Homo sapiens: one gene and its partners. The protein of the gene in region 1 purifies or fractionates together with the protein of each later gene. This does not show direct contact. Each region holds a gene or a part of one and is shown on either strand. Other genes may lie near its edges.

Evidence for each region. Proteins that work in one complex are often made in the same cells at the same time.
Region 2: the proteins of HADHB (region 1) and ATP1A1 fractionate together in Homo sapiens (co-fractionation; 3 studies listed by BioGRID, with this or other methods). This does not show direct contact.
Region 3: the proteins of HADHB (region 1) and GPC1 purify together in Homo sapiens (co-immunoprecipitation; 4 studies listed by BioGRID and IntAct, with this or other methods). This does not show direct contact.

The regions. Positions count from the first base shown.
Region 1 is NC_000002.12:26,275,914-26,282,938, reverse strand, and holds part of HADHB (trifunctional enzyme subunit beta, mitochondrial isoform 1 precursor), read right to left. Parts: intron 5,867-7,025; coding exon 5,779-5,866; intron 4,326-5,778; coding exon 4,138-4,325; intron 3,805-4,137; coding exon 3,624-3,804; intron 2,946-3,623; coding exon 2,824-2,945; intron 95-2,823; coding exon 15-94; intron 1-14. UniProt on the Homo sapiens protein: Mitochondrial trifunctional enzyme catalyzes the last three of the four reactions of the mitochondrial beta-oxidation pathway.
Region 2 is NC_000001.11:116,376,238-116,383,262, reverse strand, and holds part of ATP1A1 (sodium/potassium-transporting ATPase subunit alpha-1), read right to left. Parts: intron 1-7,025. UniProt on the Homo sapiens protein: This is the catalytic component of the active enzyme, which catalyzes the hydrolysis of ATP coupled with the exchange of sodium and potassium ions across the plasma membrane.
Region 3 is NC_000002.12:240,438,657-240,445,681, forward strand, and holds part of GPC1 (glypican-1 precursor), read left to right. Parts: intron 1-7,025. UniProt on the Homo sapiens protein: Cell surface proteoglycan that bears heparan sulfate. Binds, via the heparan sulfate side chains, alpha-4 (V) collagen and participates in Schwann cell myelination.

The DNA of each region.
Region 1 (7,025 bases):
AACATTTACTTTACCTCAAATATGCCTTCGGCTTATAACCCATGGCCAGAGCCTTTTCCTCCGCCATGATTAACATTGCAGATGCACCATCAGTCTGAAATGTTAACCAGCACAATGTTAAAATTCTTCAGCCTGTCTGGAGGTCTTTCTCCAGCCATCTTATATATCTGTACCTGAATCTATTAACTCATTAGACTTATACAGTGATTCTATATAACAACACTTACTTCACTGTATCCATCATTAAATCATAATTCAAACATACACACGCTGACTCATTTTTGGAGGATGAGGGTAGAGAAGGCTGTTCAAAAGTATCATAATAATCAAAATGAATCAACAGAAGAGGTAACTTTAGAAATAAATGCTCATGGCCAAGCGTGGTGGCTCATGCCTGTATGCCTGTAATCCCAGCACTTTGGGAGGCTGAGGCGGGCAGATCATGAGGCAGGTGATTGAGACCATCCTGGCTAACGCGGTGAAACCCCATCTCTACTAAAAATAGAAAAACTTAGCCAGGTGTGGTGGCACACACCTGTAGTCCCAGCTACTTGGGAGGCTGAGGCTGAGGCAGGAGAATTGCTTGAACCTGGGAGGCGGAGGTTGCAGTGAGCTGAGATCGTGCCACTGCATTCCAGCCTGGGTGACAAAGCCAGACTCTGTCTCAAAAAAAAAAAAAAAAAAAAAGAAAGAACTGCTCATAATAAACACTAAACACTTATTTAAGCCAAAGTTTTTAGCTTGTGGCACAAAATATGAACCAAAATAAACATATCTCTTATTTATTTATTTTTACATTTTCTGGGCTCTCAGCTGCTTTCTGCCCGTGGCTTACAGGTCATTTTATTCTACTTATATATTCTGTAACGAGCAAACCAATGGGAGAACCAGCTGAGGACATTAGAACCACAATCTTCCCTCTTTGGATACACCCCATACATTTCTTCCCAAATGACAACCGAGAAGCTGGAGGACAAAGAAGTACTACTGAAAAAACGTCCTTTACCATACTTCAAAGAAGAAAAGCTCCCCCAAAAACTTCAGAATTCCAAAGAAAAGGAAACTATTCTTCATAATTTGTAAAATCAAAATAAGTTCTACCACATTCTGTCGTATTTTTATAACTCGGCAACCCTGAAGAGACTGTGTAGCCACCAATAGGGTGTCCATAAAGTCTGGAGACATAGGTGACCATATGGAATAAATGGTTTACAGACATTACATTAATAACAGGTTCAATGTGCCATTGTGCAAAATTGCAATGAATGTGGGGCACTAATGCAGTCCCCAAAATCCATGTATTGTGATGTGTCACCTCTGATGATTTGTGTCTCTGATTCTCACTAAATAAACCTGGACCTTTAGCATACCCTGGAAATAATCAAAAGGATTCAGATCTGGCAAGTGTAGTCCATGCCACATGGCTCTATCATCCAATTCGGTTTTGCAAATGACCAACCTAACCAGCTCTTCACCACCTGGGCTTAACAGGGTGGTGTTCCATCCTGTTGGAACTACTCCAGATTCCACTCCCCTAGCCTATCAAGAGCAGGCATTAATTAGTCATTTACCATGGGCAAATATGTCAAACATCTGCGTATGTTTTCAAGACTTTATGGCCAGGTAGGAGAGTTACATTGTAAGAGAAACTCTGACCAGATGGCCTATATCCAGAAGACTATACCCAAGGTGGTAAGAGAAGAGAAATCACATCTTACAAGCAGCAGCAGAATCAATAAAGATGTTTAATTGAGGAGTCAGAAAAGCATGGAAGGATATGAAGCTACATGTTGATAAGTTAAAAAAAAAACACAAAACAAACAGTGGTAGATTTGTTCCATGATGCTTACAGGAAAATAATATTGGGGTCAGTGTAAAGCAGTTTTCTAACAATCAGGGCTGGAAGAGGTATCCTGTTACTCTTTCTGCCTGCTTTTCCTTGTCTTCTGCGACTTCCCAGTTCATACCTTATGCTCCAACCTAACTTTTCCCCAAAGAACCCCTTGCTCTCATACTTCCTTGATTTTGCATTTGCTATTCCCTTTGTCCAAAATGCCTTTTTTTTTTTTTTTTTTTTTTTTTTTTGAGATGGGAGTTTCGCTCTTGTGCAGGCTGGAGTGCAATGGTGCGATCTTGGCTCACCGCAACCTCCACGCCTCCAGGGTTCAAGCAATTCTCTTGCCTCAGCCTCCCGAGTAGCCGGGATTAACAGGCATGTGCCACCACATCTGGCTAATTTTGTATTTTTAGTAGAGACGGGGTTTCTCCATGTTGCTCAGGCTGGTCTCGAACTCCTGACCTCAGGTGATCTGCCTGCCTCAACCTCCCAAAGTGCTGGGATTACAGGCGTGAGCCACCGCACCCGGCCTGAAATGCCTTTTAAAATCCTTCCTGAGTTGGCTTTTACTCTTCCTTCAAGATTTGCTGCTCAAGTGTTACCTCTTCCAAGAAGACTCTCTGACTGTCCCCCCATCTGGGTCAGGGGTTCGACCTAAGCCTTACAGCCATCACAGCATCTCACTATATTGCAATTGTCTATTCTTTTCATTTCCAGGGCCCACCATAAGCAATAGAAGTTTTTGACTGGTTAAGTGCCTGAAAGGAAGAGCTTTTGTGGCAGAATGGTGGCTGGATTAGGTGACTTCTCGGGCCTTAAAACCGTGATTCTATTTTTTTTTTAATGACTCCACTTTCACATTAAAATGAATAACTATATTTTTAACCCTCTATTCATAACACACACAAAAAGTTATATTAGGCTTTTCTACAGAGAGTACAGAAATAGAAAAGTCACTACTAAATACAAATAACATTGACAGTTACCAAGAAAGAAGAATTTGCAGCTGTCACTGTGCCGTAGGGCTTGATGAATGCAGGTTTTAGTTTGGCCATCTGCTCCAGTGAGGAAGGACGGATGCCATTATCTTTGGTAACTGTATCTTTTCCTATTAAAAAAATGAATTTTTTTAACTCTATGGAACCACAAGCCTTATATATCTTCTCCACAGAAATATGCTTTAAAAATTACAAAAACAAATGAAATATAAACCTTACCTATTCACTAGAAGGAAAGTGTTTTATAATTATCATATTATCAAATTTTAAACTAAAGTCTTAAAAGACAATTGGGAAATCATCTAAATGCTTTACTAAAAATAGGACACCCTATTTTCTTAAGACATTCATTCACAGTTGGCTATTCTATACAGAAGTCAGACGATTCAGGAATTTTAAAAACAGGCATGTATGTAAGAACTAAAATATATCAGCAAGATCTAAAAGGAGACTCTGTTTTTCTTTTTTTTTTTTTTAATTAGAGATGAAGTCTCACGCTGTTGACCAGGCTGGTCTTGAACTCCTGGCCTCAAGCGATCCTCCTGCCTCAGCCTCCCAAAGTGCTGAGATTAGTGCTCAGATCTTAAAAGGACACTCTTATAGAAACATTAAAAAATGTTAACCTATTGTTACAACATAAATCAAAATTTGCATCCATATTTAAGAATAAAGGCTGAATACTTTGGAAACAGAACCAACATACTTATGGAAAAATCACTCGGGATGTTTTTGAGTTTTAGGAGCAATTCAGAACTCCCTAATAAGTGTCATGAAGCATTTCATTTCACCTGGTACTTTGAAGGGTACCACATCAGAAAGGAGTCCTTCATCCTGTGCCTTCTTGGCTAGACTGTGAGAGCGCAGTGCATATTCATCCTGTTCCAGCCGAGAAACAGCAAAGGCAGCGGCCAGTCGGTCTGCAGAGTGGCCCATGGTCTCACTGGTGGAGAACTCAGAAACCGCAGGGAGCTGGGAAAGGAGATATCCAAGGAGCAGGTACACTGTTAACCGGTGTTATGCTAACACCTAGGATTGTTCTGTGTTATTTGGAAAAGTTAAAATCTATTTGTCTACCATTAATCAATCAAGTCCAAGACAAGCAGAGGATCTCTAAAGAGGATCTCTAAAGAGGGCTCACAAATTAAAGTTTTCTAACCACTATCTTTTTTTTCCATCTTGAGCAAGTAATTAACCCTTTCCTGTAACTACAGAATCTACACCTATTACAGCATAGCAGAGTCCACACTGCCATACCTAATTCTAAATCTCTGCAGTGGGATGCCCTGCAAACACAAGCCTTACCTCAGGTGCTAGGAAATTAAATCGGAATTTAGAGATTAAAGACAGTCGCTGGCCCATAGATTTGGCCTTATTGAGATCAAGCATCAGTTTTCTCATTTTCCTTGAGTGACGAATAGGGACATCGGACATCAACTCAACACCACCTGCCACGATCACATCACACTGGCCAGAAGCAATCAAGCCAACACCTACAGGGCACAGGTTATACTTCATGAATATCTTTTACAGAAAATAACATACCATTCCAATTTAAGCTTCTTGATTAAAAAGCTGAATGACAGTTATCAGCTTTGTACAACATCTGTAATTAAAGTTTTCAACTTTTCAGAAGAATTAAGGTAATTTTCTTAAATGACTAAAAACACATTCAACACGTTAGAGAAAAACAAGTTTCATTCCTGCCATATGGACGTCAACTTCTAGGAATATCCATTGGACCAACTCTTGAACAAATCATATTCCAAACCAGAACATCTTGCATATTTATATGCTCCCAGCTTTAGTTTTAATAAAGATTTTTTATCCTATAAAGAGAATGTTAACTTCTGCTGCAAAGCAGAGAAATTACAGCTGTTGAAACGTAAGGCAGGCCCCCTCTCTCCTTATGGCCACTGGCCAGTATTCTGTTTCTCTAACCAGGAGTTGGTCACATGCTGCCTAGAGTGGCGAACGCCCCCAGTCACGGGCATCATTCCCCGCCACACATGAGGTGGGGTGCCCACCTGGGCCTTGATGTTACTAGATGAGCACATGATTACTAAATCTTTCAGGCTTCCTTGCCTCCTCACACTAAGAGCTGATGCTACAAAATATCCCACAGTTTTGCTAAAGTTTGTTAGTGGGGTTTTCAGTGATTTATAAAAATGACAAGGATGTAAGGAGAAAGTGAAGGAAAGAGCTGTGCCATCTAAAGCAATGATTTACAAGTATGGTAGTGGTGAAGGAAGGAAGACCATATCTTTGTGGGAAAATATCATATCTGAAGCACCTAGGTTGAAAGCCTGGCAGGTTGTAAACTATTTACTCATGCCTCAGATGCTGAAGTACCTTCCTAGAGATACACTCCTCCAGTTGATAATCCCTGCTGCAGCCAGCCACATTATTCACAGAGGAACCACGCCAATGGTAATGTTCCTCAGGTATGGAGAGCAAAAAAAGAGGTTAACTACGGTTAGAACCCCCAAATTTTAAACCTGACCTTACTTTTTAAAAAACACAAGTATAGAGATCTGTGCTAATCTTTTACTTCTGTTAAGAGTACTTTTTGGGATGAGCATGGTGGCTCACGCCTGTAATCCCAGCACTTTGGAGGCTGAGGTAGAAGGATCACTTGAGGCCAGAGGTTTAAGACCAGCCTGGGCAACATGGCGAGATCCCGTCTCCACAAAAAATTTAAAAATTAGCTGGGTGTGGTGGAGCACCTGTAGACCCAGCTACTTGGGATCCTAAGGCAGGATGATCTCTTGAGCTCAAGAGTTTGAGCCTGCAGTGAGCTATGATGGTACCACTGCACTCCAGCCTGAGTGACAGAGTGAGGTTCTGTGTTAAAAAAAAAAAAAAAAAAAAAAGTACATTTTTATAATCAAGTAAAAGACAAAGGAGAATAATTAACATGTACTGTCTGTTTCCATTTAAACATACCTGTGGTCATGGCTTGGTTGGCAGAGATACAAGCCATGGTGACAGTGTGAGCAGGAGTCTTGTCAGAGAAGCCAGCTCCAAGGGCAGCCTTTAGGAAATAGAGTGAATGAAATGATCACTATAAGGGAAGGGCATCATGTAAATGATGCTTTGAGCACTAATCTTCATAGTCATCTGGAAACGGTTTCAGTTTAACATTCTCCAGAGCAATATTTAAAATCAAATGAAGTCCATCACAGAAATGGTTCACTAATATTTAATCTTGCCATTAATTGACAGGTATATGCAAAATTCCTGCTGGCTGGTTTCTAGTGCAGACACGAGGCTATGATACTCTCCTAACTCACCTAATTTCTTATCGATGTTTTGCTCAGGGCCTTCAAGAATATCAATATATAATTTGATTTTAACTTGTTTAATGTTCAAATATACTTAAAAGAACCTATTAAAGACAGTTGCTGGAATGATGATGAAATATATTATGGGGTGGAGTCCTCACTATCTGTGTTATCAGGTCTCATGATCAGTCACAAAGCTTAGCAGCAAAGCAAAAGTGATTAAACATGAAAATGATTTCTAAAGAACTGACCCTTCATAAACAGAGTTCCCACTCAAGACCCTGTCTGCTTTACACCTATCTTTCTGCTCACTGCCAGCTGGTTTCTCTTACTGACCGTCTGATACTTCAGATAGCACACTGCAGACCCAATGCAAAGATGAACTGGAAAACTTGCCAACTATACAGAAGCTCAACTCAATGAAAGAAACTGGAGAATTGCCTGAGTTACAAGTGAGTCTGTGAACAAATAAGGGTCAGACCAACTAACAAGTGGCCAGGATGATGGCATAATACGTGATACAAAGAGAATAATTTGTCATCTGAGCGGCTTTAAGAAAAACTGAGGTCATTATTAATCTTTTAAAAATGGCCTCTATTATAATGGCACAGTGAAAGTCAAACATGAAATGAGCACATCTATAATTTTATTATACTATTTATTGGGGGAAATTATGCTGTCAAAAACCAATCAACGTCTGATTCCATTTTTGTTTATGTAAATAATTAATGCACAGGTGCAATTATAAAATACTTATTTTTATAATATTAAAGTTTTACTTTAGAAATAAAGCTTCCAGATTTCCTCCCACATACACACCCACACAATATTTACTATGAAATACTGGATCCCATTATAGGGAATTCATTTTTAGTATTCTTTCCCTGAAACTATTAATTATCCTCAGAA
Region 2 (7,025 bases), on another chromosome or scaffold:
AAGGGAGCGCCCAGCCCATTCTGTAGCCTGAAAATAAAACCTCCAAAATGAAAGTCTCTGGAAATGTTTTGACATAAGCAGGATGTAGGAAAAGCGTGTGCATTATCACATAATTCACAGGATCCACCTACGCCTCTTGAAAACTGGAACAATTTTTAAAGAAAATGTTGATTCTATAGTTTAAATTTAGATTGTTCCACTCCCCCACCCCTGTTGAAAAATCCTTGAGCTTATCTACACAAAGCCTGAACTTGGTGCTCCAAAGCTTAGCGGAGCAGAAGAGCCCCTTGTTCCAGACACCTCCCCCTGAAGCAGCCTCCCACAACTACAACTTAAGGCCAAAAAGTAGACATTAGCAATTTTCTTAAAATGCATGACATATGGTGCTATTACTATTATTTTGTGGTTCTCCTTTACTCATTTCTAACTTTCCTAAGTGCATTACCAGCTACTAAAGCAATAATTAGGAACTCGTGTCCAGATTATAATTTCACTGTGCTGAAATGAAAAAAGAAAATCAAAACGTATTATGTGTGTTTCAGTCATAACTAATAGTTGCAAATAAAATACATTGTTCACTTAAATTTAAAAATATCCTCTTAAGACTCCAAGGAGAAATCCTTCTCCAAATTCACTGGAGTGGGCCACATGTAGAGACACATTATTTACCTTTTTAACTTCTGTGGTCACGTGTGCAGCACTACTTGACTAATAACTTCTTCCAACTGGGTGGGTTCTTTAGTTTCTATCTTATCTATTAATGAAGCAGGTCTAAAGATAGTCAACATTCTTGACATTCTCTCCATTATGGAGCAACCACATTTGTTGGTGCCTCTTTCGGTACAGCTCTTGGTGCCAGAGTTTAAATGAAAAATAGTAACACATACAAGTGGACAAATAAAACAAAAAGGAAAAGGCAGGTCATCTACCAGAAAGGAACCACAGCTAAAGTGGTATATCTTTAGCTTTAATTAAAGGTATATCATACCTTTAATGAGAAAGCACAACACTTAAAAAACATTTTAAAGACATTGACTAAGGATCTCTAAAAGATTTATGTGACCACTTTGTATTAATTTTCTTTTTTTTGGGGATGGAGTCTCACTCTGTCGCCCAGGCTGGAGTGCAGTGGCGCAATCTAAGCTCACTGCAACCTCCGCCCAAGGGTTCAAGCAATTCCCTGCTTCAGCCTCCTGAGTAGCTGGGATTATAGGCGCTCGCCACCACGCCTGGCTAATTTTTGTATTTTTAGTAGAGACGGGGTTTCACCATCTTGGCCAGGCTGGTCTTGAACTCCTTACCTCATGATCCACCCACCTCGGCCTCCCAAAGTGCTGGGATTACAGGCGTGAGCCACCGTGCCCAGCCTGTATTGATTTTTAAAATACAGCTCACGGATTCTCTCTGAGCAAGTTGAATATCATTGAAATATATTTCAATAAATGAAATAGTTATAACCCCTCAGCTTCATAATCTGCATGCTTTGCTTATTCTCAGACTTCCAATATCTTCCACTCCAGAAGAGGAGAGAGGATTACTAGAGCAGCTAGGCTTTGAACACGTTCCAAAGTTTTACCCCCACTTACAAAATAAATGTCTTGCCCATAGCTTCACCACTATCAGTGCTAAAGTTAGTTGGGAATTTAGATTCCCTAATAACTCTCCTTTTTCTTTATCCATTCATGCTAGGTAAGGCAAAGTTTTAAATGAGGCTATTTGTGGGTGAGACACATGGCAAGTATTAACAAGTAAAACTGCTTTTTCTTCAAAATTTTAATTTTTTCACTAGGCAATGTGTGTCTAGAAGAACCAGGCAGCTTATACAATTTAGTTCTTCTCCACAAGTAAAATAATAACTTAATATTAGCTTATTCTTGTGGGAACCAAATATCCTTAAATCCCTATCAGTCTCAATTACCTCAGTCTCAAAGCTGCAAAATTCAGAGTCAGGGAGTGCACACTGCGTGAGATGAACAGTGGTAGAATCAGGTAGGACAATGTTTCCTTATTATTTTTTAAGGCATTAGGGAAAAACAAAGGTCATGGGAAGGGTGAATGATAAATACGGCATTTCCTCAATCAACTACAGTAATCTTCCCACTCATCTGGGCATTGGGCACACACTTCCTACTTTTTCAATTAGAAAGTTCAGGTCACTTCCCCCCTCCCAGAGGACTGGGAGTGATTAATCCTCACTCTCATCATGTTCCATGTAAGGGCACCCCCGCCCCTTTGAGCATCTCTGAGGAAAGGTACAATGGAAACTCAACGGATTACACTATTTTCTAAAGGGCCACTCATAAAAATGAAGTTGGGTTATGGTTTTTTTTTTTCCCCCTTCCATTCTAATTTAGGAAGTGGAAAGTCACAGCAAGGGCAGGGGCTTACCCACGGTGACACAGCTTAGCACAGCGTCATCATTTCATCCTGTGCTTCCCATGGATTCTATCCTCTCAAAGATTAACTAAGCATTTTGCTATTTGATCTGGGTAGAGGGAAAAGGTGCCCAAGACATGAGAAGATAAAATTCTTGACAGGAGGAACCAAGGTTAAAACATGTAACAAGGTTCACTCACTTAAAAATATATACCGAATCCTCACAGTCCTCACAATGAGTGAGACATCCCCGAGACTTGCTAGAGCTGAAGATGTTGCTTCCTCTTTTTTGGCAATTAGCCATTTAATGGGGACAGGGTTGGGGATAGATATGACAGATTTAGAAATTATCCCAAAATAAGCAGGATCTTCCATCCCAGAGGTATATTGCTTCAGGTCTGCATAAGCTATAGCCACCGCCAAAGGCCTTCATACCCATCCCAAACACCAGCCTCCAACAGGGCAGGATGCGAAGGCTTTCTCAACCTGCATTTTTCCCACCATATCAGCACAATGTCCCATGGCCAGCAGGGAGCTCAGAATTCTTGAGACTTCTGAAATTCCTGCTGAAAAAGTTTAGAGGGTACTTGAAAGTTCAAGACCCACCATTCCCTCCAGACAGGTCTGCTAATGGTGTTGAGTCTGCCAATTTATTCTAGTGTTGCCACATGCTGGCTACATGACCTTTGCCTGTCAGCCTTAGTTTCTTCATTCCTAAAATGGGAATAACACTTGGTATAACTATTAAAGAACCTAGAGAAGGCATTTTCATAGTCTGATTAGTCAAGAAACCATTAACTCTGAAAAATAAAACACCTTAAAAACTGGACTATTTCCAAAGCCCACAGACAAAAGCTTTTGACGGGCAAGAAGGGCCAGAAGGATGGCAAAAGGAAGTGCCCCAAATGCAGCCCATTTCGGAGTTGCCAAGAAGATTGTAGAAACAACACCTCTGGACATGATTTGGCAAATACCACTTTAGCAGGAAAGTTGTGTGATGGACTCTGACCTTGCTGGTTCCCTAGAGGCTGCCAAGTCTGGGCTACCTTCAATGTAAAAGGTAAGGGGGAGGGGTGCTTTCTCATTTTCCTGGTCGATACATTATTAAATCATCCAACACAATTGTGTATGTAAAAGTATTCTCAAAGCACTACACAAAGGCTATTATTATAACTTGGTCTTAATTAACATATACATTACTGCCATTTTTCGCTTTCTATGAAAATTCTTTTCAAACCTTTGAAGAAAAAACTCCTTTGGCATTATTTTTCATTTGATCTTAACAGTGAAAACTTAAAGAAAATAACAGTCAAGAAATGATCTAGCCCAGTTTATTACATCTCCATTTGCTCCTAAATGACTAAGTAGTTTAGTTTATGTGCAAGGAATTGTCTAGCCAGGGACTGGAGGGCTAAGGGATGGCCGGGGTTGAGGGAGGACACTGTCATAGTACCATGGCTGCTATCCAGCCCCAGCAGCAGCACATCACTGCAGGAGCAGCAGTTCTCTGCAGAGGAGGTGAGCCTGAGGGGCCACCATGCCTTCATATTCCTTCTCTTGCCCACCCAAATATGCATCCTGGAGAATATAATTTACCAAGGCCAAAGCAGTAGATCCCTTTGTGAGCCCAGTTTAGTATATCCAAACTTGGGCAGCCCAGCAGCCAGCAAGGGTCAAAGAACAGCGACAGTTCTAGCCAGCAGGTTCCCTCAACCCAAAAGAACATGACTTAACCTTCCTCCCCAATCTGCCTGCATGTCAATTCTTAATGAGCCTGACAGCCTACCCTACCTGCAGTAGTGTACATCCATGATCATTCAAAAAATAAAAATTCTAAAAGGTGTAAAGAATCAGTGCACTTTAGATATATTTTTGCTTTTACAGTTATTAAGAACAATCAGACAAAAACTTCAGTTTCTTCAATGGAAAATTCTACCTCTACATTAGGTGCATGGGTTATGAAGGGTTAAAACTTTCTACTTATTCCTTAACTCCCCCTTTCTGCTGACCACCTTACCCTCCTTTTTTTCATTTTACCAGATTGCTCTGGTTAGAGACAACTGATTAATAATCAGCATATGCGTTATGAGAGGACCAGATCAACTCCCAGTAAGTCCTGATCACTCCTCAATTAGTACCCTGAAGCCTAGGCTAGGAAGGAAAATGACTGCCAGGCTGAAGAGGATAAAGGCTGTCCAAGGCCCTAAAGAAATGTCACATGAATTGAAATAATAAAACAAATATGGTGCCATGGAAGCATCATGTGGAAGATAAAAGAAACACACAAGAGGATAACCCCAAAGTGCATTAGGGACCTGCCCCTACATGGTAACAGACTAGAAAGAGCAATCACAGCTCACCGATCTACACAGCAAGGCCCACTGAGTCACAAAATCTTACACTGATTATCAGGCTCCCAAACAATACAAGTCCCAAGGACAAAGCACGAACTATCATGAATCAACTTATCAAATCACTGAGACAGCCAATAGTCATTACTAAATAGGGTTTGAATAAAACTGGAAAGAGATCACGTGCAGATATATTTCATCATAACTCACAAAGGAACTAGTAAGTGAGGTCTAAAACCAGATAAAGAGATTCACTGTAAAGTCACAAAGGAACAAAGGAATGAGGTCTATTGATCAAAAATCCCTTTGCTCAGGATGCAAATAAAAACCAAACCAAAGAGAAAGTGTAGGGTGAAGGGTACTTCTTTCGTAACAGAATCTGCTATCCGAAACACAAAATAAATATGAAGAACTTCTTGTGGATTCCTGACAACAGATTTCAGCACAACTAATGAGGTGAGTCATATGCTAAGAACAGTCTCTCTATGACTCCAGCCAAAGAATACACACTTCCTCTCATACACTCAATTCATAGCAACGTGAGAAAGTTCAGACCTGACTAGGTTCCACATCCCTCCCCCAAAATATATAAATGGAGAGTTTTAAAATGAGTGAGTAGGTTTTACAGTTCTCTCTACTGCACATTATCATGTACTGGACATGTACTTTCAGTGTAATCTAGAATTGGACAGCTCTGGCAGGGATGGGAAACATTTTGCCTGGTGCTTTGCCGTCCAAACCCAGCCACTCTGATTACTGTGAGCCCATCTGATCTGACACTCGGGTTTCTTCTTCTAGCCTGTTGGCTGGCAGAGAGCCCTCGGCAGCTAGAAGAAGTCAGCACAGCACAAATGTTCAGGCTCCCTCTCATCACAGAAGGCCGAAAAGCCCATTTTATTTTGCAAGACTTCAAAAACGTAAAAATGATCATCAACCGCGAACAAAGTCCTTCACCTGAGAAGTGAAAGTAGACAGAAAGATGCTATTAAACAGGAGATTTGCTTGTTGAGCGAAGATAACAGTTGCAATAATGTCAATTGACACCTCTACTTGACTTTCCTATGAAGGGCAATTAACAGTATTTCCCATTATTTTCAAACCTTAATATGTTCTCATGGTGAAAGAAAAACTGCTCTCTAATTTTGCAAGGGCTAATGACTTACTGACGAACAACAAACCCAGTCTGTAAAGATTTGATCTTCTCTTGGCTCTAATTACTGTACCTATGTAAGCCCAATAACAATAGCCACAACTCAGGCTGGCACAGCACTCCTTCCATAAACAGAACATAGATTACTTCACTTGATCCCCAGGATGAGCATTCTATCCAAAAGCCAGATGAGAAACTGAAGCTTCAGGGCTTTTATTTTATTTTACTTTTAAACCTGTTTGTTTTTAAGTGAAGAAACCAATTTTACTTTACCATACAAAATCCTTCAAAGCTATTTTAGTTAAAGCCTTTCTTATTCTTAAGTTTAGATATATTTAAAAGAACATAGCCTGATTTGAATGGAAAGTCACTTATCTGTTCATTTGTTGCTAAAATAATCCGAAAACAATGACTGAGGGTACTGGCATGGAGCATGGATGAGTGCCAAGCCTATTGTGCTATAAGATGTTGAGTTCACTTTTATTTTTGAATGCAATTTAGGAATAACATTCCCAGGAATCTGTATATTTTAAGTGTTAGCCCTCATCTGGGCAAACATCTAACTGAATTTTTAAAGGCATCTTTTTTTTTGTTTTTTTGTTTTGGTTTGTTTTTTGGGCTCTCAGGTTTACCACTCTCTCCCCATCTTCCCAGGTTTAGGAGGCAGGCCTCTCCCTTTCCTACCCTCCCACCCGAAGGTGAGTCACTAGAGTGTTACAAGCTTACTGGCAGGGAACACTACAAATTAACAAACAGTAAGTTACCAAAAGGGGATACACCCTTATAAAAGGGTACAGAAAGAACCTAAGAAGCAGGGAACTGTTACACGCTGAACAACTGACAGGCAAAGGGTGAGGCACAAGTGCTCTCTCCACCCCCCAGCTCTAGGCACTAGTTCTTCCTGTAACTTGCTCCACTAGCTCCCGGCCAGGCCCGGGCAACTTTCCACTCTGAGGCATCTGCCTTACAATGCTTTAAGTCTAAAGTACTAGCTTTATAGCAGCCAGAGGAGCTTTAGTCACACTTTCAAGCTGAGCTCCAAAAGGGCAGCTGATAACATTACCATACAACCAGGATTTCTGCTGACATGTGCATCCCCCCTGCCACCTTCACTGGAACCTTTTTTCCCTGCCCTTCCTTAAATCACT
Region 3 (7,025 bases), about 210 Mb from region 1:
GGGTGTGTGGCGGGCCTTCCCAGCCTCTGCCCCAGGGACCAGAAAAGGCAGTGGGTGACAGGAGACTTAGCTCATGAAAGAGGGCAGTGTCGGGACATATTGGGCTCCCTTTTGAGACTTCCTTTGTCCTCTGGACAGCCAGGCCAGGCTGCAGTGACAGCAGTGGTCATCCCATTTTATGGGCAAGGAAGCAGGCCTGGGTGCCACCAGCTGGACGGTGGCACTGCAGCAGGGCACCCGGCCACCCTCCCTTTATGCCAGGGCACGGCACAGAAGGCAAGGGCGGAGCCGAGTGGCACCCCGGGTGCCCCTGCGCTGCCAGGAGCCCTCATGCTGAATCACTGCCCGCGTGCCAGCAGGCCTCCTGCTTTTGCTTGCAAGGTTGTGTCTGGGCATAGGTGTTCCCAGAGCACCTGTCTGGCCTCCTGATGTCTGATGTGATGTGATGTGTGTCTGTTTGCTCCTTTGCTGGGGTCTCAGCGCCCCACCTTGGCACCTGAGCTCCCTGGTCGCTGGGACCACCTCTAACTGTTTCCCTGTTGTAGCCACAGAACCCGGCTGGCTCCCGGCCCAGGATAGCTTCTCGGAGGACACCCCCAGGCCTTCCTGGCTTTATACCTGGCTGTGCTGGGTGGGGAGCGGGACATGGAGGGTAGAGGAGGGTCTCCTTGGAGCAGACACCCCTGTTCTCAGGGTCTCCCAGCCTGAGGCAGAGGAGGGGCCCTAAGGTCTAGTTTTGGGGGCAGAAGTCAGAGTGGGGCATGGGACTGTCGGTGGCACAGAAACTGCCCAGCCGCTCCTGTGCCCAGAGTGGCAGCCCGCCTACCAGCTGGAGCGGGCACCAGCGTGCCCTGGAGCCTGTACCAAGCACCCACTCGTTGGGCCCCTCCGAAGGAATCTTTTCTTCTCTGTGCCACTTTTGACCGCCTGGGTGGTTGGCACACAGACTCTGGGGAACCATCCTCAGAGGGCCTGGACCTCTCCTTCCCACATCCCTGAAAGGGTGTTTCCGGCTGGGCCCGGGAGAGCCCACCAGCATCTGCTTCTCAGTCCTGCTCAGCGGGCCTCTCGGAGGCTGCCTGGCACACAGCCCCTCACCAGACCAGACAGTTCCCTGTGCCCTGTCCTGTCCAGGTGGCTCAGCGTGGTTCCCAGGTGGTCCTCAGCCTTTGCTGTGTCGCTGCTCTTCCCTCCATGAGAGGAGCTCATCATCCCCAGCGTGAGGACCGAGCGGAGCCCAGGGGAGCCCTGATCCGACAGGGCCACCTGCGTGATGCAATGGCCTGGGTCCCTGCTGGACCGCCAAGCCTCCCATGCCAGGCAGGCCACAGCACTCCTCAGGCACAGATGCCCCCACCCCCATCCCATCCCCGGTGTCCCCGGGCCTTTTCACAGGAGAGAAAGGGAATAATCGTGACCTCCTGTGAAGGTGGCCAGGAGGGAGAAGGTGCTGGGGCTGTGCACCTCGTGGGCAGCCTCGGGCTGTGTCCCCCCTCTCCCCGGACACCCTCTGCAAAGGCCCACACACACCCCTCTCAGTTAATGGCATCCGGTACCCTAAGAGCACTCATGAACCCGGGTGCTCTTAGAACACGGGGAAACCCGGCTTGTGGAGCGTTTCCCATGACTGTCTGGTTAACACATCAGACGGAAGGGGTCTTTGTAGACCTGTTTTACAAATGAGTAAACCGAAGCCTGGTGAAGCGCTCCTCTTAGGGCCAGATCTGGCTACAGCATTGACCACTGCCCAGTAAAGCCAGGCCAGGCTGCTTGTCCCAGGCTCTGCACTTCTTGGAAGGCTCGTGCTTTTCCCAGCCCGCTCTCCTGTCCTGGGCCTGGGCTCCATCTCTTAGGCTCATTTAGAACGTTTAACCGGGACTCCTCCTGGCCTCCCTGCCTCCGGTCCTGCCCAGCTCCTCCTGGCCTCCCTGCCTCCGGTCCTGCCCAGCTCCTCCTGGCCTCCCTGCCTCCGGTCCTGCCCAGCTCCTCCTGGCCTCCCTGCCTCCGGTCCTGCCCAGCTCCTCCTGGCCTCCCTGCCTCCGGTCCTGCCCAGCTCCTCCTGGCCTCCCTGCCTCCGGTCCTGCCCAGCTCCTCCTGGCCTCCCTGCCTCCGGTCCTGCCCAGCTCCTCCTGGCCTCCCTGCCTCCGGTCTTGCCCAGCTCCTCCTGGCCGTGCCGCCCAGAGAGTCGTACTTCCACACAGCTGGGCCTCACCCTCCGGCCTGGCTCCACTGCCTGTGGGGGGCAGGACTGCTAGGAGGGCTGTTCCCAGCGTGTGCCACGAAGCCCTGCATGTCCCCAACAGGGCAGACCAGCCACCCACACTGGGCCAAGTGCCCCAGGATTAGTGGACAGGTACCCTATTCAGGTGCCCACAGGTGCCAAGCCAGGGAGATAAGGCAGTCCAGTCTGTTGGGGCTTGTACCTTCACACCAGCAATCTCTAGGGACAGTGTGAGCCTGTGGTTAACGCGCCTTCCCAGGTACCGAGGACGCCTCCCTACAGCAGGACGGGGGGCATACCTACCTGGTGGCCGAACCGCAGGGCTGCACATCAGACCTCGGAGGAGAGCTTAGTGGGTGTCTGAGCATGCCCATGTCTGTTCTATGGCATCCATGTGCATGGCACAGGTGTCAGCCATGGGCTGGCACTAGACAGGAGACGAGCCAGGGGAGGGGCTCACCCGAAGCCACACTGGTCAGGTCTGGCCTGGGGCCCCACATCTGCCGTGCCCGGGCCAGTGAGAGGCTGGACGCCTTTTCTTAAGCCAGACCGTCCTCACAGGGCCTGGCTCAGTTATTTCAGATCAAGACTGGACCCGTGGTGGAGGCTGGGGTGGGCACTCCTACATGCGGGGCCTCTGCCCAGCCCTGGCCCTGTCCAGTGTCGACGTGCCCAGAGCCCTGAGCCGGCCTGGATCTTGCCAGTCGCCAGCACAGCCCTGTGGGGCCCGGGATCTTGCCCACTTTACGTGGGGGCTCCAGACAGGAGCCGCCTGCCCGGAGCCTGGGCTCCTCGCTGCCGTGCCTGTGGTGGCTTTTCTTTGTCTGGGAACAGGCCTGGGCAGGTGCCCTGAGCCGCTTGAAGTCTCCTGACGGGGTGGGGGGTGCAGTGTAGGGTGTTGAGGCTTGGGCCAGGGAAGCGGGCGGTTCTCCCTCCACCTCCAGGCCCCACACCCAGGCGGGAGCACGCAGCAGCCAGGTGTTGGGTGAGGGCTATGCTGAGGAGCAGGGCCCAGAGCTGCAGCCTCCTTGGCTGCCCTTGGCCCGCCGTGGGTGGCGGGGAAGTACAGGTGTGAGGGGCATACCCCACTGCCCCAGGCTCGGTAGCAGTCTGGAATCCGGGTGGGTTTAGGAGCCCCTGAGAGGGCCAGGCCAGCCTCACACCATCCCCTCTCCTGCCTGTGGCCTCAGCTCCATCTCCCGCCAGCTCCTGCTGACCCACCTTTCTGGCACACCTGTCCCCTCCCTCCACGGTGTCCTCCCTGTGCCCACCCACAGCACCCGCCTCCTCCGGCCTTTCCCCACAGCTTGACTTCCCGGGCATCGGCCAACACGTACCCTCCCTGTTGCCGGGGCCCCCGCCTGGGCAGGCCTGAGCTCCACACAGGGTGGGGAAGGCCCCGAGTCCCTCCCGGTACCGGGTGGGGCTGGGTGCCGGGGTTGGGAGCACAAGTGTTTCCAGGGCTGTCGGAACAGTGCCACAGGCTGAGCAGCTGCAGCTGCAGACATGGGTCGTCCGTGGTTCTAGAGCCTGGAAGCCTGAGATCAAGTGTGCGTCCACCAGGCTGGCCCCTTCTGAGGCGTGAGGAAGTCTGCTCCACACTGCCAGCTTCCAGGTGTTCCTTGGCTGGTAAATCCCACCTTGGCCTCCACAGGCCGCTCTCCCCGTGTGCGCTTCTGTCTCCGAATTCCCCCTCTTCACAAGGACACAACTCTAATTGGGTCAGGGCCCACCGGTACCATCTCTTCTTAACGAGAGGTGTCACACAGACTCCACACCCAAAGTCACATCCTGAGGAATCGGGGTTAGGCCTCAGCCATGTGGGTTTTGGGGGTACAGTTTAGCCTGTAGTGGGGAGCTAGCCCAGCCCGGCACACCTACATCTTCCCATCAGGTGGCAAAGACCCCGAGGCTCTGGGTGTTTTGTGATTGTGGCCTCCTGAGCACTGGGCCGTGTTTCTGTAATGGGCTTAGAGCTCAGCACAGATGTGCCCGAGACCCTGGTGACAGTGTGAGGGAGTGACCACGCCCCAGCCTGCCACTCACCCCCGTCCACCTGAGGCGCTCTCTGGGCACAGCCTGGTCCCCACAAGCCTGGGAGGCCTCAGCGTCAGGCCCTGCACAGCTACTGGGTCCTTGGCCAGCCCCTCCTGCCGTGGGCCTCCGCTTTTCCCTCAGGTCCGGGTGGCAGGGCCGGGCCACTCAGGTGATGTTCCAGGTCTAGTGGTACAGCAGTGGCTGAGGATGCCGCCGCCTGTGCCGTCACAGAACTGGGGTGGGGGGCAGTGGCCAGGCTGGCCTGAAAACCTTCTCCAGGTTGCGTTGCGGGAGCCCAGGCTGGGAGAGTCGTGGTTCAGTGGTGTGAGTGTGCCTTGGACAGGCCCCAGTCTCCCACTTGTCAGGGGGCAGAGCCCTTCAGGTGGACTTTGGGCGGGGAGGCAGTGGGACTGCAGGGCGAGGGTTTGGAGATGTAGAGATGAGGGAGGCCTGGGGGCCAGGAGGCTGCACCACTGCTGTCTCCTGAGGCGGTGGCTGGCCGAGGAGGCCCGCTGCTCTCTTGTGCTGAGTGCCCCTTGGGTCCTGCAGGCTTGGCAGGGTGACAGGGCAGCCACCCAGGGGCTCCACCTGTCCTGCTCCTTCAGGAGGAGGAGACCTCCCAGGGCTGTGGTGGGGAGGAGGGCCAGCCACAGAGCCACTGCAAATCATCCCTGAGGCCAGGCGACTCGGAAGCAGAAACCCTGAGCCCAGCACGGGGCAGTGGGAGGTGAGGCCCAGCGGCATCTGTGAACTAGGCCTCCTGGTGGGCTCTCAAGGTCTTTGATGGGGCGCAGCCGGTGGACAGGGAGAGAAGGGTCCCTCTTTCCCCAGGCCCTCCCTCCCCTGGTCCTCTCCCACCTTTGAGGTGCCCCAGGAGTTCCCAGAGTCGGCAGCACCAGGGGCTGTCTACCGGGTGGGCTGAATACCACTTAGTTTGCAGATGGGAAAGCTGAGTCCCAGAGAGGGGTTCCCAGGGCTCAGAGCTGAGAGGCCTCGCCGCCTGGGGCCAAGCCCCACACTTGCTTGCCGAGTGACTCACTCCTGCTCTGGGCCTGGCTAGCAGGGGTGAGGCTGGGTCAGAGGATGGGGAGCTGGGCCAAGGCCACAGACTACCCCGCAGGTGCAGGCACCCAGAGGCCTGAGGGGCACCGGGAGCGCACAGGAGGGGAGGCTGTGAACACGGCCCGGCTTCTTTGCAGCTCCGTGTCGGGGCCATGTGAGGACACACACCGCAGGAGGGCCCGGCCAGCCTCAGCCCAGCCCAGCCGCCACGCCCGGTGGGTCTCCTGAGGTCAGAGCCAGCCCCACAGTGGGCACCACATGCCCGCCTGCTGTCCTGGCTCCTCCTGAGGGACAAGGGTGAGCTGGGCGGGCCAGGAAGTACAACGCTGCTAGGCTTCTGCTCTCGCCCCACAGAAGTTCAGGTTCTACTGAGAAACTTGGCTGGGGCTTCCGGGGACTCCCAAATCCAGCCGCCCAGGACCCTGCGGCACTGTCCATCCTGAGCCCCGTCCTCACCCGCTGGTCCATCCTGGGGTGATGGATCTGGCTGCAGTGACCCCGATGCTCTGAGGCCCAGAACAGCACGTCTCCCTCCTGGGAACAGCCAAGCCTTAGGCCCATGCAGCAGCGACCGGATCCCTAGCCTCCCCGGCAGGGGTGCTTCCTGGGTGCGCCATCAGCAGTGGGACCTGTAGGGAAGTCTGTGGCCTGTGCGCACCTTCAGACGATTTCCCCAAACACCGACGACAGCTGTCCAGTGCGTCACAGAGCTGTGGCCTATGGGTGATCGTCTCAGCCTGTCCCTGCATCTGGTGCAGCCTCAGTGCCCACTGTGGACCCCGCAGCCCACCCGTGTCTGGCGCATCCTTGGTGACTGGGGCTCCCTGTGGCTGTCTGATCCCATCCCTGTGGTAACCCATGTGTGACGTCCAAGTGTCTCCTCAAGAACCGGGGCCAGGAGGCCCATCCTTGGCTCTGGAGACTGCAGGGAGAGCATCCCACCCACCTGTGACCATCTACCAGGCCCTGGGGACAAAGCTGATGCCACCTGCCACCAGGGTTGGCTCAGGCGTTTACATGCATCTCCAGTTGTCATGGAGCTTGGGACACACTGGACCCAAGGAGGTATTTTAAAAGGACAAGTCTCTCACGTAATCCAGCCCCACTGTTCCTGAACGCGATGCCCCCTCCCCGAGCCTGGCGGGGGGCTGTACACAGAACACTGCTCAGCATCTTCAGTCTCCCTCCTGTGGCCTCACACCCAGGATGGTAGGTGTTAGAACAGGTGCCTCCCTGTTCTATGTGCGTGGCCTCATCCTGTGGGCAATTTGGGGTGAGGGGTGGCTGCAGGTCAGACAGATACCTGGGAAGGTCCCCTGGGATAGGGTGGCTCCCAAGCGGGAGCAGTTGCCCTGGGCACTTGTGACATCCCAGTGATTGAGGAGTGGGGGTGCTCTGGTGTTTAGTGGGTGGGGCCAGGGAGCCCAGTAATCCTGCAAGATGGAGGTGCCCTTCCACAAACGCCAGTAGCACCCCCAAGAGAAATACTTGAACTGAAGCTATAGGCAGAACCACGCCAGGGGAAGAGGGAGCTCAGGGGAGGGGGCACCACTCAGCGCCAGGTGCTGGGATGGGAGGAAGGGCAGACTGTGGTGGCCAAACACCAGCATGCAGGAGGGTTGTTCTAGATGCATCCATCCTTCTGTGGGTGCACGGATGAGGTTCTGGATGTAATTCATGGGCTTCATGAACTTGGCTGAGAAAG